2 separate regions of the Homo sapiens genome follow, and region 2 is linked to region 1. Evidence: fine-mapped QTL for protein levels in blood plasma. A gene starts in region 1. The other region holds a variant in brackets. All regions are shown on one strand. Distances are between the middles of the regions.

Region 1 (15,716 bases):
GGATAGAAAAATCTTGGCTGTTCAGGCAAACCATCTTCTGAGACCTGGTCCTGCAATTAAGTAAGTATATGCCATTGAAAAACCATTTATCCTCTACAACTTTGTATTAATAAAATGACCATAATTCCTTTCTTATTGTGTTGAGAAGAGGTAGATTCAATTGTGAAAGTTTCTTTATACCCATTCGTCTCTCACTCTGCTCCATAGGCATAATCATTGCTGACCATTGGATGTGTAGCATTCTCACCATTTTGTGTACATTTTTATATGTGTGTGTATGTGCACATGTTCTTTTTTATTTACAAAAATTGAGTCATATTTTACATATTGTACTGAGACTTGCATTTTCATTTAAAAGTCTTGGATATCTAAAAGCACTTTTATTTATTTAATTTTACTAAATAGGTAATACATATTCTTTGTGCTGGGCTGAGTCTAAAATAGCCCACCGTGATCCCCAATTTGTGGTATTCATGCCCCCATGTAATTCGCTCCCCTTGAGTGTGGGATGGCCTAACAACTTGTTCTAAGGAATCTAATATGGCAAAAATAATGGGATGACATTTTCATGATTAGGTAACACAAAATTTTGACTTCTGTTTTGCAAGCAGACTCCTCTATTGCCTTCTCAGCTTGTGTGCTTTGATAAAGCGAGTTGTCATGTCGGAGAAGTAGGGATGCCTCCAGCAAACAGATAAGTGGGAACTGAGGCCCTCAGTCCAATAGTCCTCAAGGAACTGAATCCTGCCAACAACTATGTAAGCTTGGAAGCAGATCCTTCCACAACCAAGCCTTTGAATGAGACTGAACCCTGACTGACACTTTAATACCAGCTTCGTGAGACACTCTGATACAGAGAACGTAGTTAAGCTGTGCCTGCATTCCTGACCCACAGAAACTCTGAGATAATATATGTGTGTTGCTTTAATCTGTTAAACTGGTGGTAATTTGCTACTCAGCAATAGGTAGCTAATGCACACATTATACAAAATTTAAAAGCTATAAAAATTATTTCTCTGAAAATTTGTTTCCCTCCCATTCTTTCCTCTAGCCAATCAGATCCCTTTCCCAGAAGCAAACACAGTTACAAGCATCAATTTAGACAGTCAATCTGAAAGTACTTCAAATTTTTAAAGGACCATGCATATTAAAGATACTGATATTATTCTTATTACAATTCAAAGATTTACAAATGATTCTAAGATCTTTGATTAGTGAAAGTGAGAACATGAGACCAGCCTGGGCAACATAGTCAGACCTCATCTCTACCAAAAAAAAAAAAAAATTAGCTGGGCAAGGTGGCACATGGCCTGTAGTTCCAGCTACTCAGGTAGCTGAGGTGGGAGAATCTCTTGAGCCTAGGAGGTCAAGGCAGCAGTGAGTCATGACTGGGCCACTGCACTCCAGCCTGGATGACTAAGCAAGACCGTGTCTCAAAAAAAAATTTTTTTTTTAAAGAAAGTGAGGACAACAGGGATAACTACAGAACTATCCATAAGAGACTGTAAAGAAAAGGCAAAAAAATTAACAGGTAAGTAAAAGACAAGTGTCAGATAAGTTACATGTCAAATGCAAGTAGGATTATTTATACCTGGTACAAATTCAAAGTACAAGATTTTGTAAAAGGAACTGTTACTTATTACCAGAAAGGGATCAAAAGATCATTAAATACTTATCCCTAATATCATTGATTCAGTGACCCATGCCGACCATAACGCAAGGCATTATCAGGATGCATGAAAACAAAAGAGAAAGCATTGTATTGAATGGTTCAGAGCTATGCTCATGCATCTGACACAGTATATCGAACACAGTCCATTGCACCTCAAAACTGACTTGATGTAACTAGAAATGACAGGGTAGGGATGAGGGTGAAGGATTCACTCATATACTTGAGCTAAAGAATAGACTAAAATTAAAAAGATATTTCATCTGGAATAGAGGTGAGCAAACTTTTTCTGTCAGAGAGCAAATATTTTAGGCTTTGCAGGCCATATGGTCTCTATCACAACTATGCAACTTTACTGTTACAGCACTAAAGCTACAACATAAATGACGCGTAAATGAATGGGTATGGCCATGTTCCAATAAAACTTCATTTACAAAAATAATCTATGAATGGATTTGGGCAAAGGGCTTTTGAACTCCTGATCTAGAAAGATAAAGACAAATGATGCAAGCAGCTGAAGTCTTCTAGTTTCATCTGATTAGAAGCTTGAACACATCAGAAAAGAGCCAGCTGCCAAGAAGAAACCCACCTCCCCACCTCATAATGTCAATTCCAGTACTGCTTTCTGAATACATGGAATTGACTGTCATTGAGGGCATCTTTTTTTATTTGAACTAAATCTGCTCTAATCTTCATTCCTTGTGATTTTCTGCACTTTTAGAATTTAAGTTGTCTTAGAGCTGAAATGAAGCCACAAGTCAAGAACCATCCCCTTTTTTCTCAATGCCCTGCCTTCCTACCATCTCTCTTCCAGCTGGGAGAGTCTAGGACTGGAATCATAGTGCTAGATAGGAAATACTATTTTTAATAGAGGTCTCATTTTTATCTTTTAGGATTCTTATCACCCTTTTTTTTCAAAAATGCATTTTGGTTAACTGCATGGATACATACAATGTGTATTTTTAAACCATAACTGAAATTGATATTTTTATTTTGTTGTTTCAAAGCAACTAAAATTAACATTTACATGCCAATGTATAGAACTAAATGTTTTATATTTTGTGCAATATTTACTCCAACACTTAGCTTTCTTTTAGAATTCTTTCTGAATTCTTAGCTTTCTTTTAGTAAATTCCTCAACTGTTTACTCTATACTTTTATGTTTCATAAATTTTTGTTAAAAAAAAAAAACACTCAAATCCTGTGTGTGAAAGAAAGATCTACACACAACCATGTACCCGCTCAAACCTGGTACTATAGGATAAAAGTTTAATTGATCTTATTTCCTAATCCTAATCTGCCTGTCCACCTGGTTAACACTCAGGCTAGAAGATAGGACCACAAAAAATAAGTCAGCTGCCAATTTTATAAAACTGCTGTGGAAGTAAAACATGTTTTAGAAAAATAGATTTACTGTATGTAGGATTTCTATCCTTCTTAAAAAGTAAAATTTTTATACTCATTTATATTCTAGTCAGCGATTACAAAATGTTTGTAATCTTTGTAATCATCATCTTTATAATCTTTGTAATGAAACTCTGTCACCCTTTTCCTTCTAAATTCAGAATAACATCATCTCTACGATAAACCGGGTTCCTAAGAGACCAAGCTTGATGAAACAACATGTATGTTTTCAATCTTACTAGAGGTTAAGACACCACAATTTCACTTGTGTCTGAACCAACTCCTCGTAAACAAAAATAAAGCTGAAACCCCAGTCTGAGATGCTTTGGCACTGTCTAAAAACAGAAAAAGGCCACTTTACTGATCCCAGCCTCCACTTCCTCCCCAACCCAGACAAATGGGTGTACCCACTCTGCTGATATGTCACACATAACCTCTTTTGCTACTTCACTAAGAACTCTGGCTAACCCCTTAGCCCAGCTATGACCCACAGACCAAAAGACCACCAAAGGTTTAGGAATATCAGTGAAATAAATATACAGGAAAGGGTCAAAGCTTCAGCTCCCAACAATAAACAGTTTCTGACATAAGCTACTGTTTCCTTTAATTATGGTCATCTCCATATGAGGATGGTAGAGTGCTTTAAAATTCTTCAGGTTTCCTAGAATTTACCTCCCACACAATATTTGATCTGGTGAGAGGCAACTAAGACTAAAATTAATCTGTGAACACATCCTTACTAGTAAACGGAAGTCATTCAAAACCTTCAGAGAACATGACTTTAAGTTCTCAAATATAACTAGATGGGTTGATTTTAACTTGATCTCTTATTTATTTATTTATTTATTTATTTTCATAGAGACAGGGTTTTTGCCATGTTGACCAGGCTGGTCTTGAACTCCTAAGCACAAGCAATCAAAGTGCTGGGATTACAGACTTGAGGACCAAGCCTGGACAATTTAACTTGATCTCTAACTGCCACTGGCTACTTGTTAGAAGGTCAAAAAGCAAAAGGTATCCAAAAAACAGGTGGCCTAACTAAGAAGTAAAAGCAAATGATGCTGTGTGAACGATTCAGAAGTTGCGAGATGAATTTATCATTTAGTGGAAGGCAGCTGTAGCCTCTTTCTTCTCAGAAATAAGCCAACTTAACAATATTTAATTATGTGGTATAGGCAAGATAAAATTCAGGTTCCCAGATTCCCAACATGGGACACTATCCACTAAAACCTATACCACAGCTGATTCTCTTCTTGCAAAAGTGGGAAAAACAAAAACAGAGGATCAAGAGAAGCCCGCTATCCTAATCACTTATCTACTGATATTGCATACCATCTCCTTGTGGAAAAAATTAGTCACATACTTATTGTATAAAATAATCAACTTCAATTTTAACATATTAGTAACCTCGCATGAACTTATTCTGGCTTTTAGAAATGGGGGAGCAAAAATTAATAGAAAATAGATACATATAAAGTTATAGCACCATAACTTAAATTCCGTTTCATGAGTCTAGTGACCTGGAACACAGACGATAAAATCCAAAAGCTATGAACTGAGCAATATTATGCATATGGCATTGTGTTAATTAAGGTAACATCTGCTATCGTAACAGATGTCAGGCACTAAAGGCAATAGAAACTTATTTCTCATTCATACTGATGGCAACGGTGGGCCATCCGGAGCGGTTGCTGTCATCTTGCCAGCTGCAGCTGGGAGGCGCCAGCGGTGGTGGCAGGAGCGGCTGTGGGAGCAGTAGTGGCGGGTTGCGGGGGAGGGGGTACCCCTGTGCCCTATGTCCAATGTCTGGGAGGCAGCCGACTACGCCACCGGGACCCTAGCACTGCAGGGCAGGACCTATCCCCAGGCCCAGAGCCTCCGTAGCTCAGCCCCTGGCCCCGCGTTGCTGCTGTCACCCTCTGCTGCTGCAGGGAGGATGTGTGGAAGAGGCAGACAGTCCCCGAAGCCCACAGCCCTGGGGGCCACCACGATGGGGCCAGGCCAAGTCGCCCATGGGCAGGGGAGCAGCTGTCAGGCAGAGAGGGTCCCCAAGGCAGAACTGGGTCCAGGGCAGTGTGACGCTTGCACACAGAGCGTGGTGGCCGAGCCAAGGCGCTGACCTGGGGTGTGCTTCAGGGCCCCATGGCTGGAAGTGGGAGCAGTGCCCGCTTCAGGACCCAGCCAATTTTTGCAGTGACAGCACCCACCCCACCAAGCCAAGTTCCTGCACGTCAGGAGAAGGCTCTGCACAGGGCTGACTGGGGCTGTGTCCAGGGGTTCCGTCCCGCATTGAGGTGATCACCGGGCCTGACACTCTCAACTGCCAGGCCAGGCCCTGATCCACTCCCAAAGGGTCCCCCTCAGACAAGGCTGTGAGCTGGGTGGGCAAAAGCCCCGCCCTCCCAGGAGCAGGACCTGGGAGTCTGTGCAGTCTGCACCCTAGGGGGCCTGTCTGCTCCTGCTGCCTGGTCTCTCCCCACTCCTGGCACCCACTCCAATCTTGGAGTGGGGTTGGGGCCAAGCCGGAGAGCTGTCACAGCCCAGCTGGCTGTGCGCATGCTCCGGACAGCACTGACACACCAGCCCCCTGCCACCTCGGCCTCCTCCAGACTTTGGGCACTGATGAGTGTTGCGGGGAGGGAAGTGGAGGTGAGGATGAGGGCAGCTCAGTGCTGGCTTGCAAGTGCCCCTTTGTGCAAGCAGCCTGGGTGCCATGGACAGCCACAGGAGGCAGACCGGCTCCTGGGCAGAAGGGGGCAGGTCCAGGTGAGGCCCCATTTTCAGGCCAGGGAGAGCCTGAAGGCTGGGGGCCAGGCTGCCAGTCCCACAGACTGGAGCGGAGACTCGTGGTGTCTTTTCCAGGCCTGCCCATGGTTGCCCATGGACCAATTGGTGTGCACTTCTTCACCTCTGAGGTCCATAAATGCCCTGGGCTCAGCAACACCAGGGCAGAGGATGGAGAGATGAAGGGACAGCCAGCAGCAGAGAGGAGATACCCACTCTGCTGAGAACTGAACACTTTTCGGGATGACCTGCCTATATCTCTGATAGGAGCTGAACACTCGTCAGGACACCCTAGCTATGGAGAGGAGCTGCCCACTGTGAGTCTTCCCTGAGGTGTTCTGTTGCTCAATAAAACTCCTCTTCGTCTTCCTCACCCTCCACTTGTCTATGTACCTCATTCTTCCTGGTCACAGGACAAGAACTCAGGACTTGTGGAATGGTGATGCTAAAAGAGCTGTAACACAAACAGAGCTGAAATATGCCCCTTGCTCGTTTTGTTGGTGGGCAAAGAGGAGAGAAGAGCTGCAGCCCTTCAGGGAGCCTAGACCTGGGATCTCCCTGAGCTAGGGCTGTGACTCCCTTTTTGAGACCCTGTGGTCCCTGGTGTCTCTGAGCCTCTGGGCACCACCACATTCCCTAGTATGAGCCAGGACAGCTGCCTGTGGGGCGCTGGTCCAGCCACAGCCTTGAAGAGAGCTGGCGCCCATGTCGGCACCTGGAGCTTCCTGCCCCGCAGCAGCAGCTGGCGTGTCTGACTGCACAGTGGCCAGACTCTATGCTCATTCACACCCCATTGCCACTCCATGCCTGACTCGCGGCATCCCTTGGAGGCATGGGATCCAGGCCAGTAGCATGAGCTGAACACAGCCTGCCAGGCTGAGTGGGCAGAATGAGTCCAGTGGGCCAGAGGCAAAGGCACCACCGGCTGTATGTTTCTGGCCAAAAAAGCAACACTCCAAAGATCCTGTAACAATACGATATCTAATGCTAGGGTTCCAGATCAGCAGACAGCTCAAGTCATGTTCTCCCTGGGCTCTGCTATCCAAAATGCTTCAGTCCTCTTCATCTGGTGAAAGGGTAAGGAAGAAGACTATGGGGGAGGCACGCTTTTTGAAGTTTTTAGGCACTTCCGCCTGGAAGGGAAACACATCACTTTGTTTTACATTCCCTTAGCAAGAACTAGACATATGGCCACATCTAAATGCAAGGGAGGCTGAGAAATGTAGTTTCAGCTGGGCAGCTGCTTCCCAGCAACTACTCTGAAGACAACACATCTTTGGTGTACAGCCAACAGTACCTGCACAATTATTATGGTAGGTGCTACATAGAATTCAAATGTGGTAAGGCATAAGACCAACTATGAAACATGTCTTTCTGTAGAAATATGATACTTGTTAAAATACAATAAGCAATTTGTTCAAAGTTTAGAGAGTCAAGAAAACTAATATTTAAGATCATTGTATCTATTAAGAATGAAGCTAATGATATTAACCCATAATCAGTAGGTGTGTGTTTTGAACTGGTGATTCACAGCTGTTTGAGATTAGCAGAGACATACTGACACTCTCCCACACTGTATGGCTCATGACCATAGCATGGCGTTAGCTGGGTGGCATATGTGAAAAAATTAAGCTTTTGTTCTTCTTAGATTTGAACTTGTTAGAGGCAAGATTTTTGAAAATCCTTACAAAATTTCTCTCTTCGGTATCATTGGAACTTACAGCTTTTGTTGTATGGTTATTTGGGTTTTTGTTTTTGTTTTTTGTTTTTTTCTTTTCATTTTAACCAAGTTTGGTCAAATTTGGATGCTTATAATTTTGATTCACATCTTAGAAGTTAGTCTCTGGGGCCAGGCATGCGGGCTCGCGCTTTCAACCCCAAGACCACTTTGGGAGGCATTTTGGGAGCTGAGGCAGGAGGATCTTTGAGTCCAGGAGTTTGAGACCAGCCTGGGCAACATAGGGAGACCTCGTCTCTACAAAAATTTAAAAATCAGCCAGGTCTGGTGGTGCACACCTATAGTCTAAGCTACTGGGAAGGCTAAGGCAGGAAGAGCGCCTGAGCCTGGGAGGTCGAGGCTACAGTGAGCCGCGATCACACCACTGCACTCCAGCATGGGTGACTGAGCAAGATCTTGTCTCAAATAAATAAATAAATAAGTTTGTCTCTAAATATTAGCTCCTCAACTGAGCTGCATCTTAGCATCCTCTTGAAAGCTTTTCTTAACACTGATGTGTAGAACTAAACACTTCCTTCCCTGGAACCCTACTGGCCCTGTAAATATACACCTAATATTTATGCAAAGAGTAAATGCAATCAGGTAAACAGAAGTGACCGGCACATTAAATGGCTTCTATTATAGTTATGTGAAAAAATTGAGGTCATAATACCAAACTTATGTCATCGTTATGAATATTAGACAAAATGCATATTTTTAAATCTAGTACTTTACAGGTGTCCCATAAATATATATACAATTACCATTATTGTTGTTATTATTGTTGTTATTATTTTGAATATCTCTCCTTTTAAAAGGCAAAGACAGAAGTTTTGGGCTCACTCTTTGTTACTGTAGAAAAAGTAAATGTTAAGGGCATAATAATTACCAGAAAATTCCCTTGTTTCTTAGGGAAAAAACAAGCAGCAGAAATTGCGTTAAGCATGAAATGGCTGAAAAGAGGGCAAACTGATTCTGGATGACTCGTGAACAATATCATTAGATACAAAGTGAAATTAATAGGTTATCTAGACTAATAAAATCCACAGATGCTTGGAAATGAAGGAGATGTGAATGCGGGAAAGAAAAATCTAAAAACATCTCCAGATTATGGCGAAGCCCTATATGCCTGACCTGTTTGGCAATAAAACTACCCCCAAAAACCACAAGAGGCATTTTCCAGGAAAGAGGCAAGCCAATCTCTTCAGTCAGTTTCTCCTCAATCCCCTACTCTGGGTAATGAAATCTGAAAGAAATTCATGTGACCCATACTGGGAAAATGCCTCTAGAAAACCCATATTGTGGGAGGTAAGAATAAAAAATTCTCAGAACATGAAAGATTGATTTATTAAAATTGTAGGTTGGGATTGATTTACCTCCTTTTTTTAAAAAAAAGTTTTATTTTTATTAGTAGTATTATAATAATGCTCATTAATTTTTATCTATAGTTTAAAATATAGCAAAACACATGATATTTTACTTAAAAACATCATAACTCTTCGACTTCACCTGTCCCCTGGTCTATTAAAGACTCTTTGAGTTAAAATCTTTCTTCAGTGTGAACTTCTCTCAAGAGCATCTCTACTTCTACCATCTGTTTACTCCTCTTGTTGTAGTGTCAATATTTTATTCCTCATGAACTTGAAAAGGAAACATAAATCACAAAATTTTAGAGCTGAAATGGACCTCTAAAATAATCCAGATTAACTCTATCAAGGAACTTGAGACCTAGACAAGAGAAAGGATATGCCAGAACCCCATAGAAAAGAATTTGAGATGGGAGACAAGAAAATCTAGGCTCTTCAAATTCTGCAATGGCATTTTTAAAATGTATACATAAATTATTTTAAGAACCCAGTAGAAGCTCCAGCCTCTTGGAGTTTATACTAAACTCACATGCTACCTGGGCTACCATGGGATTAAACATTATTAAAATAATGCTCCTTCATTCACTTGTTCCTCTAAACATTTACAGAGCACCTAACAGGAAACTGTGGATACAAACATGAATAAATCCCAGTCCCTGACTGCTGGGAGTTTGCTTTTTAGCGTGAGGAGGACAAACATTTAAGGCAATAAAGCTTCATCGGTGCTATGCTAGATCAAGTGCAGGCTGCAGAAGGAGTTAAAAAGTGGGAGTTGGTTATTTCTATTTAGACCAGAAAAGGTTTTATAGGGGATGCTTTGATGCATGATGTGCAAATATTTCAGAGACAGGTGCGGATGAGACTGGAGGGATATTCTAGATATAAGGACCATGCAATGTGAGTAAAGGCATGGAGACCTGAAATAGAATGACACACTGGGGAACCCACATGGCTCTGCATGATTGTTTTAGGGAGTACAAGGAGAGAAGTTGGGCAGAAATAAGGCTGGAGAGACAGAAGAATGCCAGACCCCAGAGGACCTCATGTTATGTAAGAAATAGCAATCACCTGGGCAGTCCTTTTTAGGCACAGGAAGCATGCCTGAAGTTCTCAGGTGTAATTCACTCAAGCGGAACACTATCTATATTGGAATCTGAAGACGTTTAATTCAGGAGGCCGGGAGCGGTGGTTGATGCCTGTAATCCCAGCACTTTGGGAGGCTGAGGTGGGCCAATCACTCAAGGCCAGGAGTTTGAGACCACCCTGGCCAACATGATAAAATTTCATCTCTACTAAAAAAAAAAAAAAAAAAAAATTAGCTGGGCATGGTGGTGCATGCCTGTAATCCCAGCTACTTGGAAGGCTGAGGCACAAGAATCGCTTGAACCCAGGAGGCAGAGGTTGCAGTGAGCCGAGATCGTGCCACTGCACTTCAGCCTGGGTGACAGAGTGAGACACTGTCTCAAAAATAAATAAATATGTTTAATCTGGGGCTTTATGAAGGCAACAGAAAATAATCAGCAAGAATAACTCAATTTATGTAAGAACTATATACATGTCATAATTGAGCTAAATTTCTTCACTGAATAAATATTTTTGGCACATAATCTGCAGAGGGATTAGCATATCATGGAACTTACACTCTATGAGGAATTCAAACATTAAAGAAGAAATCAAATTTTAATATAGAATATTTTAAATTACAGGTTTAAGAAACATAAATGTTATGCTATGGGATAGGGGCATTAATGTAAACTATGCCTTGACAAGAATTGTCGAAACAAAAAACCTTAGCCAAGTGTAACCAGAAAAATATCTGACTGAGCTGCTTTTGTTGTCTAGTTTTACTCCCCTTTCTTTTGATTTTGTTTTCTCTTTTGCACTGAAATTGTCACCTTTTCATATCAACCTTATGATAGATTCTCTACCAAAAATTACTCAAACATCAGATTTTAAGCAAGAATTCTCATAAACCAATTTCGGAGAATGATTTTCTCCCCTCAAATATATCTGCAAAATGACTGTCACTGACCGCTTATTGCCACAAAATGTCTTTTTCTGAACAAACAAGGTCCTCCTGCAGCTGCTAGACTTTCTATTTGTGCTTTTCCACCTTGTTCTATCTCCCTCTTTGGATCCTCTCTGATTACAGCCTCCTCTATTGTTCCCCAGGTTGTTATAGGTCTCGAGTTTATGCTGCTGTGGTTGATGTTGAGTGGGAAGGGGGACTTTCTGTTTGGATCCAATCCCAGAATACCCATCCCTTCAACTCCAATGTGGACACAGGGTCTCTACCATATACCTTCTCTACCCAGGGTGCTGCCAAGTTTACTGTTTAGCCACACCCCCTTAATCTCATTGGTTACTCAAGTTTCAAATTTCCTAGTTGATTTTCATGAACAAATGGGCTCCATGAGGGTAAGAATGGTGTCATTTAAGAAAAAAAAGTTAGTAATTTAAGTCTACCTTAAAAAAGTCTATCATTTAAAGAGCATTAGAATGTCCTCAGAGTTACTAATACTACTTTAATGAAGAAATAAATGCTAGATTCTTGAGTACAGGCAGATATTAGATATCAATATATGAGATATACTCTGAATTCAAGCATAGTGCCTATGCATTGTATTCATAAGCAAAAACTATAAGGTCAGAATTCGTGTCATAGATGCAGGGCTGAGTGGGCAATCACCAACAATTTATTGAGCACTTACTCCATAACAGTTCTATGTGTCTAAAGGAAAACTTTTTTTTATTTGTTTTAAATTGAAACTAATGTTTACCAATGGTACGACCACTTTGTCAGGAGCTGACTTTTGTTGTCTAAGCTATTGAGCAATGGAATAAAAGAGTTTATGGTGTTTTTGTTTTTTTTTTTTTGTATTTCTGAAATGCTCTAATTTCATGTCTGAACTTGAAAATAGCACCCTCTTATCATCCACCTTTGCTTGCTACCCTGTGATAAATAATGCCCCTTTTCCCAGTCTATATATGATGAATGGTGCTAGGCTTCCGATTAGCTTTAATTCCAAACTTCTTTATGACAGATTAGTGGTGTTACCAAAATATCAGAGTCATGTCTGAACCTTGACTCAAGGGAAAAAAATAATTACCTGTGGAGCTGAAAACACTGAAATAGTTGGTTACACTTTACTAAGTAAAATATAATTAGAAATGTTCAAATAAACTGGAAGTGAGTTTAATAAAGTTGTCCACCAAAGTAGTGACATTGAACACTTACTTTTTATTATATGGGAATTTTCATGTAATTCAGGAAAAAGACCTTAAGGCTCTTTATTTGTTTCCATGTGTCCTCTTAGTGTGTATAATTTAAGATCACAAATTACTCTTTGCATTCTAGTTTGACAACTAAACTTTTTTTACTTTCCACTCACAAGATTTATAGGGAATTTGTGCATTTTGACCTTTTGATTCTAACAACCAATCATTAGCCAATCAAGAATGGAAACTTTGGAAATATTACAGATAGAGCCACTGTGATTTAAATCATTTAACATGTTAATTCTGACAGAAAATCCTACTCAGAAAAAACAACCAGCAGCAGCATGTTTGAGTGCAAACAGCAAGAAACATCCCAAAACATGACCTCCCCGATAGTCAGAATGACGCAGCATCCATTTCCTACTTTACAGAATTGCCTCCCATTATAAATCACTTTATCTTCTCAACTCCAAAGCATCCCAGACACATTCTTTACCCGTGAATTCACAAGCCTTTTCTCTGAGAGAGGCCTTGGGACTAGGAACTTTTTGAATGAGTGTAGAAGTCGGGAAGGAGACAATAGTGTCAACTTGGGATTGCCTAAGGCAACAACAGAGCAAAACAAGAACGCTTTGGTTCTCTGGGTCTCTGTCCCTGATTGCATAGCGGGTCATTGTTGGGAAATATTTCCTCACCTGGCATTCCAAGAAATGGAGAGCTCCACAGCTGTATATAGTCCTGTCATTAAATACAGGAGTGTTCTATCCCGCTGGAATTAAGAAAATTGGTAGAACCAGATTGTGGTCTGAAATCTTTTTTCAGAAATGCTGCCATCGTGTGGCACTGCGGAGCTATGACCAGAAGAGTCCTGTAAAGGGTCGTATGGTTCATCTCAAGATGGCTGGGCTCCAGCATAATCTATTCCTATAATTAATTCTAGCTTCATATTGAATCATTCCCGTGGGCACAGAGTAAACTACAGTAAATCCTGTGGAAATTTTGTTGTTTTTAGAATTTTCAGACTTCCCTCCACTAAATTGACAACATGACACGCTTATGCGGGTATGTTTAAAGGAAAAAAATAGTTTTTAGAAGCAGAAAAAAGAAGTCTATTTTGCAACTTTATAATCTGTGTGCTTTCTATTTTATAGAGATAGTCGTCATCTTACTTATTAAAATGGGTGCTTATTACCTACAAACCAATCATATCAATTCATCTGGAATACATCCAATTTAAGGGAGACATATTTCCCCCTACCAAATGTTCATGAAACCTATGAATTAGCTATACACTATCACTGCAAGACATTATTTAATCTATATTTATATTAAAAGTAATATTTGGCAAAAGGAAGCTGACACTTTAGGACTAATAAAAACCACAATTACTTTTGCAGCAACCTAATAATAAATAGGACCATTTATTTTTCATCTCAATTACACACAAGTCTTAACAATAAAGGTGTAAGGTAAATAAATAGTGCAATCTGCATTTCACAACTGAGAAAGCAAATGAAGATAAGTAATCTCAAGGCAATATTAAATATTTTAAAAGGACCCAGAGCTCTGCTATCCCTGAATTCTGCTCTAATATTCGGACTTTCCCTGTAATTTTCTTTCATTCAGACACCTTTTAAATACCTAGTAAAGTGTTTTTTAATACAGAAATTTTTAAAAATGTTTTTCTTTTTAAGTGGCCTACTTTACATACCTTGGGAGAAAAACTAGAAAAAAAGATGATTCCAAAATCGAATCTGTTCCTTTAGAAATGTGCAAAATTTCCTTATTGATGCATACAATTTAAAGATCTTACGTCTACTCTCATTTTAATAACCTGTTCTTTTAAAGGACATTACAATTCGTGACTGCCTGCCCCTCTTAAAAATTTCATAATAGTTAACACACATATAGTCCTTAAGATACGCAGAGCATTTGCATCTAATATGTGCTAAGCATTGCTAGTTTAACATACTAATTCATTTAAACCCCTCAAAAACCCCATGACCTAGGTAATAGTATTGCATTTCATGGATGAGGGAACAAGGATAGGTAGGCTGGGCGATTTGCCCAAGGTTGCACAGGTCAGCAGTGACACAGCGGAATTCAGAACCACGGTCTGGCTCCTGAAGCAGCCCTCTCAAGCAGTCATCCTGCTCTCAGTCAGAAACTGCTTTACTTCTGCAACATCTAGAATAAATTACCATTCTTCTATTTCATATAGAATTTTATATTTTAATGTCACTAGTGCCATTTGTCTAAGTAACAAGCTACTGCATACTCGAAATCACAAAGCTAAGCTTGAGTAGTAAAGGACAGAGGCAAGTTTTCTGAACTCCTTGCAGGCTTGAACAATAGCCTTCTGGCTCTTCAATAAGTACAATCATACAGGCAAGAGTGGTTGCAGATATTACCTTTATGTTACTTAAACCGAAAGAAACAAAAATCCATTCTATTTAATTTTACATTAATGTTTTTCCCTACTTTCTCCCTTTTTCATGGGATCCCTAAGTGCTCTTCCTGGATGCTGAATGCCCATCCCGTAAATGAAAAAGCTAGTTAATGATATTGTACATAAGTAATGTTTTAACTGTAGATTGTGTGTGTGCGTTTTTGTTTTTTTTTGTTTTAACCACAAAACCAGAGGGGGAAGTGTGGGAGCAGGTGGGCTGGGCAGTGGCAGAAAACCTCATGACACAATCTCTCCGCCTCCCTGTGTTGGTGGAGGATGTCTGCAGCAGCATTTAAATTCTGGGAGGGCTTGGTTGTCAGCAGCAGCAGGAGGAGGCAGAGCACAGCATCGTCGGGACCAGACTCGTCTCAGGCCAGTTGCAGCCTTCTCAGCCAAACGCCGACCAAGGTACAGCTTCAGTTTGCTACTGGGTTGTGCATTCAGCTGAATTTCATGGGGAAGTCCAAATTCTAAGGAAAAATATTTTTAATTGTAATGCTGTTAAACAGACTTAAATTTTCTAGCCTTTTTAATAAGCAGATTAGATACATTGCAGGTCTCCTGGAACAAAGGTGTCTAGATATTTTGAATGCCAATCAAATTTAAAACTTAAAAATACTTCCACTGGGTCCTCAAAAGAACGGAAACCACCGATGCTAATCAGAAAATAGTAAAATTAAATTCCCCTTTGGAATAATTATACCTATATAATTTTCAGTGGGTGACTGTGCAGGAATTTAAAAGAAAAGGGATCTTTTATGCTAATTAAACCAATTACAATGCTATTTTTTAAATGATGTATCTCACTTTTAAGGGGAAGAAAACCCTTTCTGAATATGCCACTGCTAAATTTAGCTGTTAAAATATTCACCAAGATACCTGTATGACACTGTGTAGGCTTATTATTACAAATAGAAAAGCTGTTGGCTATTTTCAATGTTTTCCTTTGAATTTCAAATTTTTAGAACATCTTACTTAAATAACAAATTTCAGAGATAGTTTGATTTCACCTAAGTAGCACCTACTTGATAATTAAGCTAAAAGTCACATTTAAAGTACATGTTGGAAAAATGGATAAAGCAAATTTTTTTCATTTTTTTCTGTGAG
Region 2 (16,668 bases), 31 kb before region 1:
ACAAAGCTGTTGAGCAATTCAGTAAGATATTAAGAAGATGTTCCATGATTTAGCAGCCAAAATAACTTTGTTAAATATTTGGTTAATGTCTCTTTACTGTTCTAGGAATTCCTAGAGCCTTTAATATGTTTCTTGTGAAGCAGGCAGATGTACTATGCAAAGCTACTCCAACTGATTAGAATAGAAAATACTTTTATGAGAATCCTATTAATACCTCATAGAACATGCATTTCCTGGACCAAAGTTGAGTAAACATGGAATTAAATCTTTAGTGATAGAGATCACATTGGCAGAACAATCTCACTACAAAGATAAATTTAATAATGAATTATGTGTAGAGAAGGAAGAGGGAGTATGTTTGTATTGGTGTCTTCTGAATTTTGTTCTTGTGTGTCATTTATTCAGTTTTGTGTGAAAGTCTTTTTCTTTCTTTTTTTAAAATTATACTTTAAGTTCTGGGGTACATGTGCAGAACATGCAGGATTGTTATAGGTATACATGTGCCATGCTGGTTTGCTGCACCCATCAACCTGTCATCTACATTAGGTATTTCCCCTAATGCTATCCCTCCCCTAGCCCCCCACCCCCCAACAGGCCCTGGTGAGTGATGTTCCCCTCCCTGTGTCCATGTGTTCTCATTGTTCAACTCCCACTTATGAGGAAGAACATGCAGTGTTTGGTTTTCTGTTCTAGTGTTAGTTTGCTGAGAATGATGGTTTCCAGCTTCATCCATGTCCCTGCAAAGGACATGAGCTCATTCTTTTTTATGGCTGCATAGTATTCCATGGTGTATATATGCCACATTTTATTTATCCAGTCTGTTATTGATGGACATTTGGGTTGGTTCCAAGTCTTCGCTATTGTGAATAGTGCCGCAATAAACATATGTGTGCATGTATCTTTATAGTAGAATGATTTAAAATCATTTGGGTGTATATCCAGTTATAGGATTGCTGGGTCAAATGGTATTTCTAGTTCTAGAACCTTGAGGAATCGCTACACTGTCTTCCACAATGGTTGAACTAATTTACACTCCCAACAGTGTAAAAGTGTTCTTATTTCTCCACATCCTCTCCAGCATCTGTTGTTTCCCGACTTTTTAATGATTGCCATTCTAACTGGTGTGAGTCTTTTCCTTTCTTTCAAGTATGTGTCTGCCAAGTTTTTATTTCCCTCATCAAACCGTGTATTATTTCTGACTATTCTGGTAGAAATGTTGAAACATTTTTAAGCCTATTGCAAATGTCTTCTGTCCAGATCCAGATAATTTCTAAAGGAGTCTGATCGATGCCTCATTACTGCCAGGGCAGCCTGCACTGCTGTAGTTTGTAGCCTATTTGCTTATAGTATGAATTATGTCATTAAGCAGACTTAAGGTATAAAAAGTTGAGTGACAAAGGTGTTTCAATGAGAAAAAAGGGACTTCAACTAGAATGTAAAGGGCACAAGAATAAAGTCAAGGAAGGAAGGGAGGAGGGAGAGAGGAAAGGAGGGAGGGAGGGAGGAAAGGAGAGAGGAAGGGAGGGAGGGAGGGAAGGACAAGGACACAGGCTAAACTTGCTAAAATGCTGGGATAATTGGCACGGAGAGGTGCTATTGCTGGAGAAAGCAAGTTAGATGGTCACCCTATTTATGCCATTTTTAGCTATTCTGCTCATTGGTATGTACTTAATAGAAATATGTGCACATGTGAAACAAGAGAAATATACAAGAATGTTTAAAGCAGCATTATTTATAATAGACCTAGAGTGGAAATGACTAAAATAGGCATCAACAGTAGAATGGAATACCATGTAGCAATAGAAAAGAATAAACTACAGCTACATGCTACAACATAGATATATCTCAAAGCATAATATTAATTTCCTTTAATATAAATGTCAAGAACAGGCAAAATTAAATTATAATGTTAGATATAATAATCACCTTTGAGGCTGGTGTAAGTGATTGATTAAGATAGTTTCAAGGGACTTCTGTGGTGCTGGCAATATTTTATTTCATTATTTTAATGTGGTAAAAACCATAAAATTTACTATCTCAACCATTTTTAAGTGTACAGCATAGTAATGCTAACTATAGCTCATTGTTTTGACAGGTTTCTTGAACTTTTCATCTTGCAAAACTGACTCTATACCCACTGGTCAAGTGATCTTCAACAAGGGCACTGAGACTATAAAGTGGGGAAAGAATATTTTCTTCAACAAATGGTATTGAGAAAACTGAATATCTATGTACAAAAGAATGAAGTTGGACTCTTACATTATACCATATTTTAAAATGAAGTCAAAATGGGATTAAAGATCTGAAACTTTAAAACTCCTAAAATAATAGGGAAGAATCTTTACAAAGCTGAATTTGGCAATGATTTATTGGCTATGACACCAAAAGCACAAGCAATGAAAGCAAAAATAGACAAATGGAACTACATCAAACTAAAAAGCTTCTGCACAGCAAAGAAAGCAATCAACAGAGTGAAAAGACAATTTATGGAATAGGATAAAATATTTGCAAATCATATATCTGGGAAGGAGTCAATATCAAGAATATATGAAGAACACCTGTAACTTAACAACAAAAATAACCCAACTTAAAAAATTGGCAAAGGACTTATATACATATTTCTCCATAGAAGATATACAAATGCCCAAAAAGCATATGAAAAGGTGTTCAACATCACTAATTATTTAGAAAACGCATGTCAAAGCCACAGTGAGATATCACTTTATACCTATTAGCATGGCTGCTATTTAAAAAACAAAAACAACAACAAAAACAAACAAAAAAAAAACAAAAACAGAAAATAACAAGGGCTGGCAAGAATGTGGAGAAATTGGAACCCCTGTGCACTGTTAGTGGTGATGCAAAATGGTTCAATCCCCATGAAAATATATCTCTGGACTCTATTCTGGTCCACTGGTCTGTATGTCTGTCTTTACATCAATACCATACTGTTTTGATTGCAGTAGCTTTGGAATATGTTTTGTAATCAGGAAGTGTGAGGATTCTGGTTTTCTCATTTCTCTTAGGATTGTTTTGACTATATGGCTTCTTTTGAGATTTCATATGAATTTGAGAATTTTTTATTTTTAAAAATTCCATTGAAATTTCATAGGGATGGCATCGAATCTGTAGATTACTTTACATAGTTTGCATATTTTAATAATATTAAGTCTTGCAATCTGTGAAAATAGGATGTTTTTTCATTGATTTGTGTCTTCTTTAATTTCTTTCAGCAATGTGGTGTAGTTTTTAGTGTATAAGTCTTTCACCTCTTTGCATAAGTTTATTCCTAAGTATTATATATTTTTGATGCTATAATAAATGAATTTTTTTCTTAATTATCTTTTAAGGTTGTTCATTGTTAATGTATAGAAATGCAACTGATTTTTGTGTGTTGATTTTGTATCTTGCAACTTTGCTGAATTCATTTATTAGCTTAAACAGCTTTTTTTGTGGAGTTCTTACAGGTCTCTACAAATATGGTCAGAGGCGTTCGAACTAGAGTGACTCCATCTTGAATAGGGGGTGGGTAAAATAAGACTGAGACCTACTGGGCTGTGTTCCCAGGAGATTAAGCATTCTTAGTCACAGGATGAGAAAGGAGGTCAGCACAAGATACAAGTTACAAAGACCTTGCTGATAAAACAGGATGAGGTAAAGAAGCTGGCCAAAACTCACCAAAACCAAGATGATGATGAACGTGACCTCTAAACGTCCTCACTGCTCATTATATGCCAATTATAATGTATTAGCATATTAAAAGGCACTCCCACCAGCGCCATGACAGTTCACAAATGCCATGGCAATGACTGGAAGTTACCCTCTATAGTTTAAAAACAGGAGGGACCCTCAGTTCTGAGAAATCTCTGTCCCTTTCCCAGAAAACTCACGAATAATCCACCCCTTGTTTAGCATAAAATCAAGAAATAACTATAAATATATCCAGTTGAGCAACCCATACTGCTGCTCTGCCTATGGAGTAGCCATTCTTTTGTTTCTTTAGGTTTTTAATAAACTTACTTTCACTTTACTCTTTGAACTCGCCCCAAATTCTTTCTTGTGCAAGGTCCAAGAACCCTTTCCTGGGTTCTGGATCAGGATCCTTTTCCAGTAACAATGTCATCTGCGAACAGATAATTTTATTTCTTCCTTTTCAATTTAGATACCTTGTATTTCTTTTTCTTTCCTAATTGTTTTTGCCTAATTGCTAGGACTGCCAGTACTATGTTGAATAGAAGTGGAGAGAGTGGACATTCTTGCCTTGTTCCTGATCTCTTATATGAAAAGCTTTCAGTCTTTCATTATTGAGTATGATGCTAGCTGTGGGCTTTTCATATATGGCCTTTATTTTGTTGAGGTAAAGTATCTCTATTTCTAGTTTGTTGAGTGTTTTTATAATAAAAAGGCATTAAAATTTTGTCAAATGCTTTTTGTGTCAATTGAGATGATTATGTAATTTTTATCCTTTCTTCTGTTAATGTGGTTTATTACACTGATTGGTTTTTATATGTTGAATAACCCTTGCCTCTTAGAGATAAAACCCACTTAGTCATGGTGTGTAATCCTTTTAAGGTACATTTGAACTCTGCTAGAATTTTATTCAGAATTTTTGCATTAATATTTATCATGGATATTGAACCTCATAGTATTCTTTTCTCATAGCAGATTGATCTGGCTTTGCTATCAGGTTAATTTTGGGCTCAGAGAATAAGATTGGGTTTTGCCTCCTCTTTAATTTTCTGGAAGAGCTTGAGAAGGATTGGTGTTAACCTTTCTTTAAATATTTGGTAGAATTTTCCAATGAAACCATCTGGTCCTTGTCTTTTCTTTTCTGGGAGGTTTTTGATTACTGATTCAGTCTCCTTACTGGTTATAGGTTTGTTCAGACTTTTTATTTCATGATTAAATCTTGGTAGATGGCATTTTTCTAGTAATTTATCCATTTTTTTCTAGGATATCCACTTGGTATAAAATAAAATATTTCCTGTCATATGCAAAACAACTTTCATTTCATTCTTGAGTGGTGCTTACTTCTGATCACAATTGTGTATAACAGAGATGTCCAATCTTTTAGCTTCCCTGGGCCACACTGAAAGAAGAGTTGTCTTGGGCCACACATAAAACACACTAACACTAATGATAGCTGATGAGCTAAAAAAAAAAAAAATCACAAAAAAAATCTCATAATGTTTTAAGAAAGTTTACGAATTTGTGTTGAGCCACATTCTAAGCCGTCCTGGGTCACATACAGCCTGCAGGCCACAGGTTGAACAAGCTTGGTGTATAACCAAGTGCACTCTTAGAAAAATTTGAACATTTTAAAACCAAACTGCCTAATGAAAACCCCTATTATTCAAGAAGTGTCTATATAATATTTAATTTTTTCTAATTTAGCATAGACCATCAGTTAAAATTAAGAGAAACACAAGTATAACTATCAAACACACCCATGAAAAAAATCTCAGAGTAATAATTTGATTTTTGTTTGACTATTTTGTCTGTTTGCAAAGTAATGTGATAGATTTTCAGTAATTTATTGAGTCACTTTCTCAGTCATCAAGTTGTTATTGCATTTATCAGACTAAGAAGTCACTTCTTAAAGGCAGTTGTAATTACATTGTAGATGCAAAATAAAATAGAGAACAACTCTATCAATCCCCTTCATACTTCCTTCCTCTCAAGAGTAAGGCTCCATTTCTTTCAGAATATCCTTTAAAAACTAATTGAATAGAAATCCATCTCCTTCCTAGCATCAGGGATTGAGAATGGGTACCACACATACTTGAAAAAAAGTGCTGTAAAACGTTTGCATTTCAAGACAAAAAACTAACCGCTGGCTGACACACCTGAGCAAAAGGCAACTCTGCCTTCCCTGTAGTAAATGTAATTTAATATAGGTCATTAGCTAAGAGAAAAGCAGCAATTTGAATTTTCAAAGTTTGATTCTCAGGGTCCTCTACTTAAGAATCACCTGGGCTGCCCATTAATGGAAAGGGCAGGGAGGGTCCCATGAATTTGCATTTCCATGGGAAGCCAGAGTTATTTTTTTCCTTTGCAGAATCTCAATAAGCTCTGGAGAATTAGATGGACAGGAAAGATTGATTCTTTTGATTATTTGTGAGAATTATTGGCAGCTCCTTAAGTGGCAGTAACATAGAGTAAATTCCTACCTCAAAAATATCTTAATAGATTTTTAGGTTCAGACCTATAAATTATTAGATATATTAGTTTTTAGATTTCATATTTCAGTTATGTTGGATTCTACTAACTCATCAATTCATGGCATTAATTCATGGTATTTCCAGAGTTCTCTAAAGTCTTTTCATATCATACTCACTTTCTATATTTCAATATGCCCCAGGAGGGCAGGAATCTTTTTGTTTGTTCACAGATGCATAACAACTACCTAAAACAATTCCTGGCTCATAGTGTTACAGTTTGGATTCACCGCTGGTAACTCAGATACCTGCCATTGGTAACAATGGCAAGTGTTCAACAAATATTTGTTGAATGAATGAATAAATGTCAGATTAAATGTCAGTTTCTCATTTTGTTGAAGCCGTAACTGTGCGCACAAAGATTCAGAAGGGATTCTTAGGATTTGAACAAGGCCAGTGGCTTTTGATTCAAGGTACTAAGGTTTCATGCACATCCGTGTGAAGAGACCACCAAACAGGCTTTGTGTGAGCAATAAAGCTTTTAATCACCTGGGTGCAGGTGGGCTGAGTCCGAAAAGAGAGTCAGTGAAGGGAGATAGGGGTGGGGCCGTTTTACAGGATTTGGGTAGGTAAAGGAAAATTACAGTCAAAGGGGGGTTGTTCTCTGGCGGGCAGGAGTGGGGGTCGCAAGGTGCTCAGTGGCGGTGTTTTCGAGCCAGGATGAGCCAGGAAAAGGACTTTCACAGGTAATGTCATCACTTAAGGCAAGGACCGGCCATTTACACTTCTTTTGTGGTGGAATGTCATCAGTTAAGGTGGGGCAGGGCATATTCACTTCTTTTGTGATTCTTCAGTTACTTCAGGCCATCTGGGCGTATAGGTGCAAGTCACAGGGGATGCGATGGCTTGGCTTGGGCTCAGAGGCCTGACATTCCTGCCTTCTTATATTAATAAGAAAAATAAAACAAAATAGTGTCGAAGTGTTGGGGCAGCGAAAATTTTTGGGGGGTGGTATGGAGAGAGAATGGGCGATGTTTCTCAGGGCTGCTTCAAGCGGGATTAGGGGTGGCGTGGGAACCTAGAGTGGGAGAGATTAAGCTGAAGGGAGGCCTTGTGGTAAGGGGTGATATTGTGGGGATGTTAGAAGAAACATTTGTCGTATAGAATGATTGGTGATGGCCTGGATACGGTTTTGTGCGAATTGAAAAACTAAATGGAATAACAGAAGGAGAAAAACAGGCATAAAAGGTTTAAGAATTGGGATGACTCAGGACATCTGATTAGAGAGTGCCTAAGGAGATTCAGCATAGTCCTGCCAGCAAAGATTATTTATTTACTTCAAGAGTTAAGAGTGGCAGTTTGGGGATAGCACCAGGAGATATCAGCTGTGGTGGCTTGGAGAAACAGTGTAAACCGGCAGTGTAAACAAGAGCAGGGCATGTATGAGTAGTTGAGAACGCTGAATAGGAGTATGACTAGACAGAAGATAGTAGGGATGACAAGTTTTTTGGGCCACAGTCTAAGTTGGTCTGGTGTCTGGAATGAGACTGGGGCCTAATAAAAAGGAGCGTCTATACAGGAGCTTAAATGGGCTGTATCCTGTAGCATTCCGAGGACAGGCCTGAATTCTGAGAAGGGAAAGTGGTAAAAGTATTGTCCAGTCCTTTTTAAGTTGGTGGCTGAGCTTGGTGAGGTGTGTTTTTAAAAGACCTTTAGTCCATTCTACTTTTCTTGAAGACGGAGGACCGTAAGGGATATAAAGGTTTCACTGAATACTAAGAGCCTGAAAAACTGCTTGGCTGATTTGACTAATAAAGGCTCGTCTGTTATCAGACTGTATTGAGGTGGGAAGGCTAAACTGAGGAATTATGTCTGACAGAACGGAAGAAATGACTGCGGTGGCCTTCTCAGACCCTGTAGGAAAGGCCTCTACCTATCCAGTGAAAGTATCTACCTAGACTAAGAGGTATTTCAGTTATCTGACTCGGGACATGTTGAGTAAAGCTAATTTGTCAGTCCTGGGTGGGGCAAATCCTCGAGCTTGATGTGTAGGGAAAGGAGGGGGCCTGAATAATCCCTGAGGAGTAGTAGAATAGCAGATGGAACACTGTAACACCTTGTCCTCACAAGATTTGTCTCCATATGGTTCCATAAATGAGTCTACATATGCCATTCCACAGGAGACTTACCTGAATATCATGAATGGTGTCATATTTCAGGTACATATTGCTATAGGCAGATTGAATACTCAGTGACGGTGTAGACAAATCAGTCATGGTGAAACTGAGCTCATAT[T/C]GGTGAGACCATGCATAGCCTCCATTCCTGCCACCATGTTCATTTTGTATACCACCATTGACAAATCATACAAATGGCTAGGGAATTAGGCAGACTGACATCCCTAAGAGAGATCATCTTATCCATTTAATTATTCAAAGCACTCATTCACCACTTGGATGCCCTCTAATGGGCATTTACATGGGATACAAATATCTTCCCACTCTGTGCCCATGCTGAGAGGCCCATCACAGACATCTCCCCAGACCTTGTCACCACTCTTCTTATTTTGTTCTTTCCAGTTCCTTAACCACTGGCCAATTCACCCTTTGTGCTATCTCCCCTTCCACATTAAATAGACACCCAAAAGACTGCCCAAAATTCTGCCTCCTGAGAACATTTTCTTTCCTCACTATCTTTCAGTGCCACCCATGTGGGGCTGTAATGCAGTAGCTATCCATTTCTCTTAGAGGTCCACATGCCATCCATCCATAAGCCAGGCCCATTCTTTCTTCTCCTTCAGCTGGTCATAGAGAATTCCCTCAACGAATTGGAGCAGTTGTCCAAGGGAAAAGCAAGAGAGTAGTAACAGCAGCTACCATGGAAGTCTGAGCCACTCACTCACGCAGTTTATTTGTGCCTCCAGACCCTTCTTGGCCCTGTCTCATATATAACATTTTCATTTTACACTGGAATGATATGTGCATGTCTAAATTTATGACGCATATTTTATTATTTTCAAGTCAGGTGTTCAGTCTTTGACTCACCCAGCAGCAAACTAAAAGGTGTTTTTCAAGTCAAGAATAGTTGTCAGAAGAGGCCAAGTCTTATTCTAAACACCTGAGAGTCTCGCCCTGTAAGCCTGCCAGAAGCTCTCTATAACATCTCTGTCTGAAGCTAATGTTTAGTGCCTTGAGTCTAACAGATCATAAGAGTGAAGCAGCCTAGACTTGCTGAAGAGCCTTTTGTGCTTTTCTTGGTGTGACCCTACTCAAAACTGGCAGCCTGACAGATTTTCCAGCAAATATTAGGAGCAGCATCCCCATATGTGGTATATGAAGCCTCCCAAATCCAAAGATGCTTACAAAATGCTGTGCCTCCTTCCTTGCAGTGAACCAGGCAAGATGCAGAAACTGATATCTCACTTTAGTAGGGATACCCCAAAGTACCCAAACAAGATGACTGGATACCTAATAACTTTGCCTATGTGGCAGGTCCTCTAGCACCCTCTAGCATTCATGTGTCTTACTTAAGGCATATAGGTTCTTGATAGTTCCTGCTCATACAGTCCAGTTGGCATAATTTCATAAAAGTAATGGACTAGCATAAAGTTCTGTTCCCTCCAAAGCACATTATAAGAGAAATGGGTGAGTTGATGTAGATAGCCCTTAGGGAAGTCAGTAAAGTATCCTGCTATCCCTGCAACTTGAAAACAAACTGCTTCTTATTAACTTAGCTGATAGAGATGTCAAAAAGCATTTGCTAGATCAGTAACTACATACGGGCCAAGGGCTATGTTTTATTTTGCTGTTTCAGTGAAGATACCACATCAACTGCAAGTGGCATTACCATCTTATATCTATGGTAATCTACAGTCATTGACAAATGGTCCCCCCAAAATAATATATTAATAAAATTTTTCCCACTGTTATATGGACTCATTAGCCAAGGAATGAGAAGGTCGTTTGGTCAAATGAAAATAACACCTGGCTAATTTTTTCTGAATGCTGGGCACTCTTGCTCAGAGAAGTGTTAATAACTTGTGGATTTCAGGGCTAGAGTGGGAATAAAGTAGTGTCCTATTAGTGGTTGGTGGGGTATTTGAGACTTTGAGGTCAAAAGGAGATCTGGTCTTGCTCCAGGAGGGAGTTGGATTCCCTGAGTTTAATAGGATGTTTAGGTAGCAGTTTCCATAAAAAGCAGAATTCTGTGTCCTGTCCAGGGAAGCACCCTTGGAAACTGCCAAACTTCTGATTGGAGTGGCAATGTGGATGTGAAATAAAATCACTAAGCACCCTCACCTCACGCAGGGAAGGTCCTGATGGCTGAGCTCAGCATAAGTTGCCCGTGCAAAAGAACTTGGACAATTCGCATTTTAGTGGTGAGCAGGATGGACCAAAAACAGAGGCTGGTTCTTATGCAATCTCCAGAGTCCACAAAAAATCATTGCATTTGGATGTGCCACTGTCTAGACAGCCCACAGCAAAGGCAAATTACTTTATCCATCCAATAAGACCCTTAAAAGTACTTTTTTTTCTGGTGCGTATATTTATAAAGCACTTTGAAGCCTTGATATAAAAGTACCCAGAAAGCAGAAGGGTAACCATAATCTAAGAATGAGTTTAAACCTGTGGAAGATCATTCAGGAGTGCACTTTGGAGAGTGAGCCAGGAACTAGCCTTTGTTTCCCTGCATGACTCTGTCAATCTTGCTTTCATGCTTCTTTCTTTAGCCTTTTCATAATAGTCTTAACAGTCATGTCAACACATCACTTATTACACATTGTTAAAAAGGATTACTTCTGGGAGACTGTACTGAAAGGAGAAATTGATGCCTTTTGCAATTTCCTATTTCTATTCTTCTAGTAGAAAGTCAATAAAATCTTATTTTAACAAAAACTAAAACTAAAATTTTCATGTAATGTTTTTACAAGGAACATTTTTTAAATCGTTCTTGCTATAAAAATAGTGCTGCTCACTCCATCAGTTCTTAATTTAAAACAGATTTTCAACACTCTTAGAGAAGTAGAGTAATTTGCCCAAGGTCTGTGGCTTTCTTCATTATTCCAGCCCCAGCACAAGGAAAATATTCTCTGTTTGGCTCTTCCCAGTTGCATAATGGAGAAAAAACTATCAGGACAATTCTCTTCAGTATGAAGTGGGAAGCTATGTTTTATTAGATTTTTTGAAGACACTCAAGCGTTTCATCTTTTTGACAAAATCAGTGGTTCCTCTCTGGTTAGCAAAATAAATGGCAACTTAATTAACTCCATGAATGTTACACTTGAAGTCTGCCTGTCCACACTTTCTTCTTAGGAGTTAAAAAAAAAAAAAAAAAAAAAAAAAAAAAAAAAAAAAAAAAGATACAAATCCCTAGGGAATTATTCTTATTTCAGATCACTGAAAACAGCACAAGCATATTTTTTAAGTGTAGAATTGTCCAAAAGAAATTCTATAAAAAGTGGTTTCTATTTTTTTTGAGGCAGGGTCTTGCTCTGTTGCCCAGGCTGGAGTGCAATGATCACGGCTCACTGCAGCCTCCACTTCCCAGGCTCAAGCCATCCTCCCACCTCAGCCTCCCAAGTAGCTTGGACTACAAGCACTCACCACCATACCTGGCTTTTTCTTTTTTTGTAGGAATGGAGTCTCACTATGTTGCCCGGGCTGGCCTCAAACTCTTGGGCTCAAGCAATCCTCCTGCTTCTGCCTCCCAAAGTCCTGGGATTACAGGCATGAACCACTGCACCCATCCCTCTATTTTTCTAAATTGCCTTGCAAGATACTCATGGAAATACAAAAATGTTAAGGTCATGGCCACAAACTATACAAGGTCCATGTCCTCTATTAAAAAACAAAATGAAAACCAGGCATCAATGTCATTATATGGTACATTCTGGGAGAAGATTTAAAGAAAAACAAAAAGAGAGACAGAGAGACTGGAAATGCTTTTTAAATGCCTCTGGAAACATTGTTTCTCTACTGTACTCCCATTTGTTTTTACTTTTCCATTTGTGGCCTCATAATGATGTAACAGGATCTGGATACATCATTCACCAAAATGACAGGTGAAGGTTTTGCCATCAACATGAGCTCGTTCATCAGACAGCAGAAGCTGACTACATTTCTAGATCTGTGATTTTCAAAAGGTAAAAAAAAATAAAAAAAAGACACCCTTAAGAATATGATACTCTGGTGGTTTCTGCAGAAGATAAATGGTAGAGAAACGTGAAAACAATATTCTCTGTGATGTTTCCCAGAAAACCTAGAGGTCCAGTCTGGATAGCTCAAAGAGGAGTTTGTTAACACATTTACAGGTTTTGCAATGAGTCAATAGTCCAGGCCTATCCTCTAGGATACCAAAACATTAGGGCTACATATAAGCAAGTCTATAGGAGGTCATTTCTCCCAGGATTCAGTAAATCAAGGTCTAAGTGTTTTCTTTCTTTCCTTCAGCCAAAATGTGAAGGACTCTATAGGCCCTGAATGCAAATAGAAAGATACAACTAAAATCAGCATGATAAAAAGCATTAGTAGAGAAGCTATTGAATCTACTACTATAAAAAAGAAACTGAGACACCTGGGGGAAGGGGCGGCTGTGGGCGTCAGCAGACTTAAACGTTCCTGCCTGCAGGCTCTGAAGAGAGCAATGAATCTCCCACCACAGCACTGGAGCTCTGATAAGGGACAGACTGCCTCCTCAACTGGGTCCCTGACCCCCATGCCTCCTGACTGGGAGACACCTCCCAGCAGGGGTCGACAGACATCTCATACAGGAGAGCACCAGCTGGCATCTGGCAGGTGCCCCTCTGGGAAGAAGATTCCAGAGGAAGGAACAGGCAGCAATCTTTGCTGTTCTGCAGCCTCTGCTGGTGATACTTAGGCAAACAGGGTCTGGAGCTGGAGTGGACCTCTAGCAAATTCCAGCAGACCTGCAGAAGAAGGTCCTGACTATTAGAAGGAAAATTAACAAACAGAAAGCAATAACATCAACATCAACAAACAGGATGCCCACCCAAAAACCCCATCCGAAGGTCACCAACATCAAAGACCAAAAAGGTAGGTAAATCCACAAAGATGAGGAAAAACCGGCGCAAAAAGGCTGAAAATTCCAAAACCAGAATGCCTCTTCTCCTCCAAAGGTTCACAACTCCTCGCCAGCAAGGGAACAAAACTGGGCAGAGGATGAGTTTGACGAATTGACAGAAGTAGGCTACAGAAGGTGGGTAATAACAAACTCCTCTGAACTAAAGGAGAATGTTCTAACTCAATGCAAGGAAGTTAAGAACCTTGATAAAAAGTTACAGGAACTACTAACTAGAATAACCAGTTTAGAAAAGAACATAAATGACCTGATGGAGCTGAAAAACACAGCATGAGAACGTCATGAAGCATACACAAGTATCAATAGCCAAATCGATCAAGCAGAAGAAAGGATATCAGAGATTGAATATCAACTTAATGAAATAAAGCATGAAGACAAGATTAGAGAAAAAAGAATGACAAGCAATGAACAAAACCTCCAAGAAATATGGGACTATATGAAAAGACAAAACCTATGTTTGATTGGTGTTCCTGAAAGTAATGGGAGAATGGAACCAAGTTGGAAAACACACTTCAGGATATTACCCAGGAGAACTTCCCCAACCTAGGAAGACAGGCCAACATTCAAATTCAGGAAATACACAGAACATCGCAAAGATACTCCTCGAGAAGAGCAACCCCAAGACACAAAATCGTCAGATTCACCAAGGTTGAAATGAAGGAAACAATGTTAAGGGCAGCCAGAGAGAAAGGTCGGGTTACCCACAAAGGGAAGCCCATCAGACTAACAGCAGATCTCTCTGCAGAAGCCCTACAAGCCAGAAGAGAGTGGGGGCCATTATTCAACATTCTTAAAGGAAAGAATTTTTTTTGTCAGACAAAAATTTAACTTTTTATGAGATTTCAGTTTTTGAAATACACAACTCTTATAGGTAACAAACCTGCATATTCTGCACATGTATCCCAGAACTTAAAGTATAATAAAAATTTTTTAAATTTAAAAAAGATAAAAATAAATGTCAAATTTCAGTACAGACATTCTTTCTCTTCTTATCTCACAAGTTATAAACACAATATTCCAATTTATAGTTAATAAAACCTTGATTATTTTAAAGGAAAAAACAATGAAGCTGAGTAAACAAGGTGAAATATGGCCTGTTGGGGCACTTCTATCATGGCTTTAATTAAATATTGTCCTAAATGAACAGAAAAGAAATTTAATGAAGGTTCATAGTGTTAGCTATATATATTGATAAATTATACATCCATATATATACATGGAGTATGTATTTTTGGAAGAGTAACCTGAAGAAAAAAGGCATACAGAGGCAGAATGATGGTGTGCTGAATGCAAATAAGAGCTATCTCACCTGTTTGGCCTTGATGTTGGAGGGGATACTCTCTATCATCCATGCAGCTTTCACCTGGTTAACTCCTGCTTCCCCTTTCAGGTTCGTTGTCTGATGTCCCCAGGTGAGGTTAGGTGTTGTGCTGTGTGCTCTGAGAGCAATGGCATGCTGGTAAATGTCTATAACTGGCTCTTTGAAGGAAAAAACCCTGATCTGCAGCAATTTCCATGGTGTGAATACTCACGCCATGGTTTATCTTGAGCTACCAACATGATGTCATTGAATGAAGAGTTAGGGAAATGTGTGCGGTAGCCAGCATTAAGAACAATTCCACCACACAACGACAGCCATAAAGAACCTCAGCAACAAGATCATCAGGAAATGATGGGGCATTTATTACCTTTGCTTTTTAGTATAATTTATCTAATTTATTTTTGATATAATTTATCTAATTATAAGTTTACATAACAATTTTTAATAATGTCTGTGTTTAAAATGAGCTCGCAAAATTCCCAGAAATTTAACAGTCAGCTCCCATAAACTGGCAGATGCTACCTCTTCCTCCTATCCCTGTTGCATAGCATCCTGTATTTATCTCACAATAGCACTACCATGATTGATTTTAATTGCTTGTTTAATTGTCTTTCTTCCCTGATAGACTTTATTCTTGATGAGGGCAGAGTTTCCTTATACCTTACTATTGAGCTACCACAGTTCCTGACACATCATGTTTCAGAGTTTTGTTTTATAAACAAATGAACAAAATGGATAAACAAATGTCATGGGCACCAGCCCTGGTTTCAGCACTAGCTACCAAGAGCCAGCCTTTGTGTTACTGCCCAGAATGCACCAGCCGACTTTGCACTATGGATTGCATCTCAAAGAATTACTCAAATGTTACCTATCAAAATTCAATGAATTAAGAAAGCTGTAACATACACAAATCAAAACACCATGTTGTACATTTAAAATATATACAATTTTAAAAAGAAAGCTATAACACAACAGAATATAAGATAGAGTTTGGATGAATACTACTCAATCCATCCATTTAAGAAAGCTTTTGAGGGCCCGTCATGCTCCAGGCACTAGTGATAAAGCAGTGAACCAAGGAGAAAATTTTCTACCAACATAGGCCTCACATCCTAGTGGTAGAGACAGGCAAAAAAATTAACTAACTAATTAATTACTGTCTTACAAAATGCCAAGTAAGGATAAATTCTATGAAGAAACAGAGACAAAATAATAAAGACTGAGAAGTACGAAGATGATGGGGAAAGCCTTCTTGAGGAAGTAGCATCTGTGAAGACACTTGAGTGAGGTGAAGGAACCAGTCACGTGACCATCCGAGGGAATATTCCAGGCAGAACGGACCACAGAAGCACAGGTGATGTGGCACGTGGAGCCCAAGCAGGTTGGAGAAATAGGAAAGACATACATATGATTGGAGTGGGGTGCGTTAGAGGAAGAGTGTACATGAGGTGAGAGCATAACATGGGGACGGATTATGTAGCGACTTAAAGGTCAAAGAAAAGATTTGGTTTCACCTTGTGCATGTGATGCTGTCAAATTGTCGGAAAAACAGTTTACAATATTTCACCAAAGCAGAATGAGTTAAGTGTGTGTGTGTGTGTGTGTGTGTGTGAACTTTAATCACCACCCTGGGTGCAGTTAGCTAATATTTGTAATATTCTAAGCAGTAATTCACACACAGGCACAGTAAGTGTTTGGAAAACCATAATCAGCAGTACACATTTGAGAGTTGCTTTTAGCAAGTGCTTCAAATTTCCCCATCTAAATCTTCACCAAAACGTTTAAAAAATAGCATCAGGGATATTAGAAATAACCTTACATTGCTGTGATTAGTAGTATTTAATAAATATAATTGGCTAGAAAGTCTATATAAACACTCTTTTCCTTGCAGGAAAAAGGTGTAAAAATCTGGCAGGCTCAACAGGACATGGCTGTGGCTCTGAAGTTCTGTTCATCAGGCCTGCGTCTCCCAACCCCACCCCATCCCCTTCTGTCCTAAGTGCACACACATACACACACTTACATTTCATACAAGGCTGTTTACCGGATCCTAGTAGATGATTGGCTCATCCTACACTGAAATATTGACAAGGC

Which allele goes with the higher level. Positions count from the first base shown, and alleles are read on the strand shown. Strength reflects both the effect of a copy and how common the allele is.
For the plasma level of the protein whose gene starts at base 14,931 in region 1, T is the high allele of the variant in region 2 and C is the other (weak association).

The links. PIP is the posterior inclusion probability: the model's chance that the variant is causal. Protein levels are from antibody-based Olink assays in UK Biobank. Linkage for the fine-mapping came from a reference panel and not from the study's own genotypes, which makes the PIPs less certain.
Region 2: its variant is fine-mapped to the plasma level of the SPP1 protein (UK Biobank, PIP 0.97).

Annotation. Positions count from the first base shown.
Region 1 is chr4:87,960,784-87,976,499 of GRCh38, forward strand. It overlaps SPP1 (secreted phosphoprotein 1), which reads left to right and starts at 14,931. Exons shown (of 7, transcript NM_001040058.2): 1 at 14,931-15,017. It overlaps LOC124900730 (a long non-coding RNA gene), which reads right to left and starts at 12,986. Exons shown (of 2, transcript XR_007058172.1): 1 at 12,856-12,986. RefSeq lists promoters at 12,685-14,927, 13,927-15,014, 14,804-15,017, cis regulatory regions at 13,937-13,946, 14,162-14,170, 14,237-14,245, 14,683-14,698, 14,873-14,882 and 1 more and enhancers at 14,189-14,209, 14,572-15,071, 14,834-14,904.
Region 2 is chr4:87,929,280-87,945,947 of GRCh38, forward strand. No RefSeq gene overlaps it. Among named protein-coding and RNA genes, the nearest start is that of SPP1, 38 kb to the right of the region's middle. RefSeq lists an enhancer at 6,552-7,373. The variant T/C (reference allele first, on the strand shown) is at 8,454.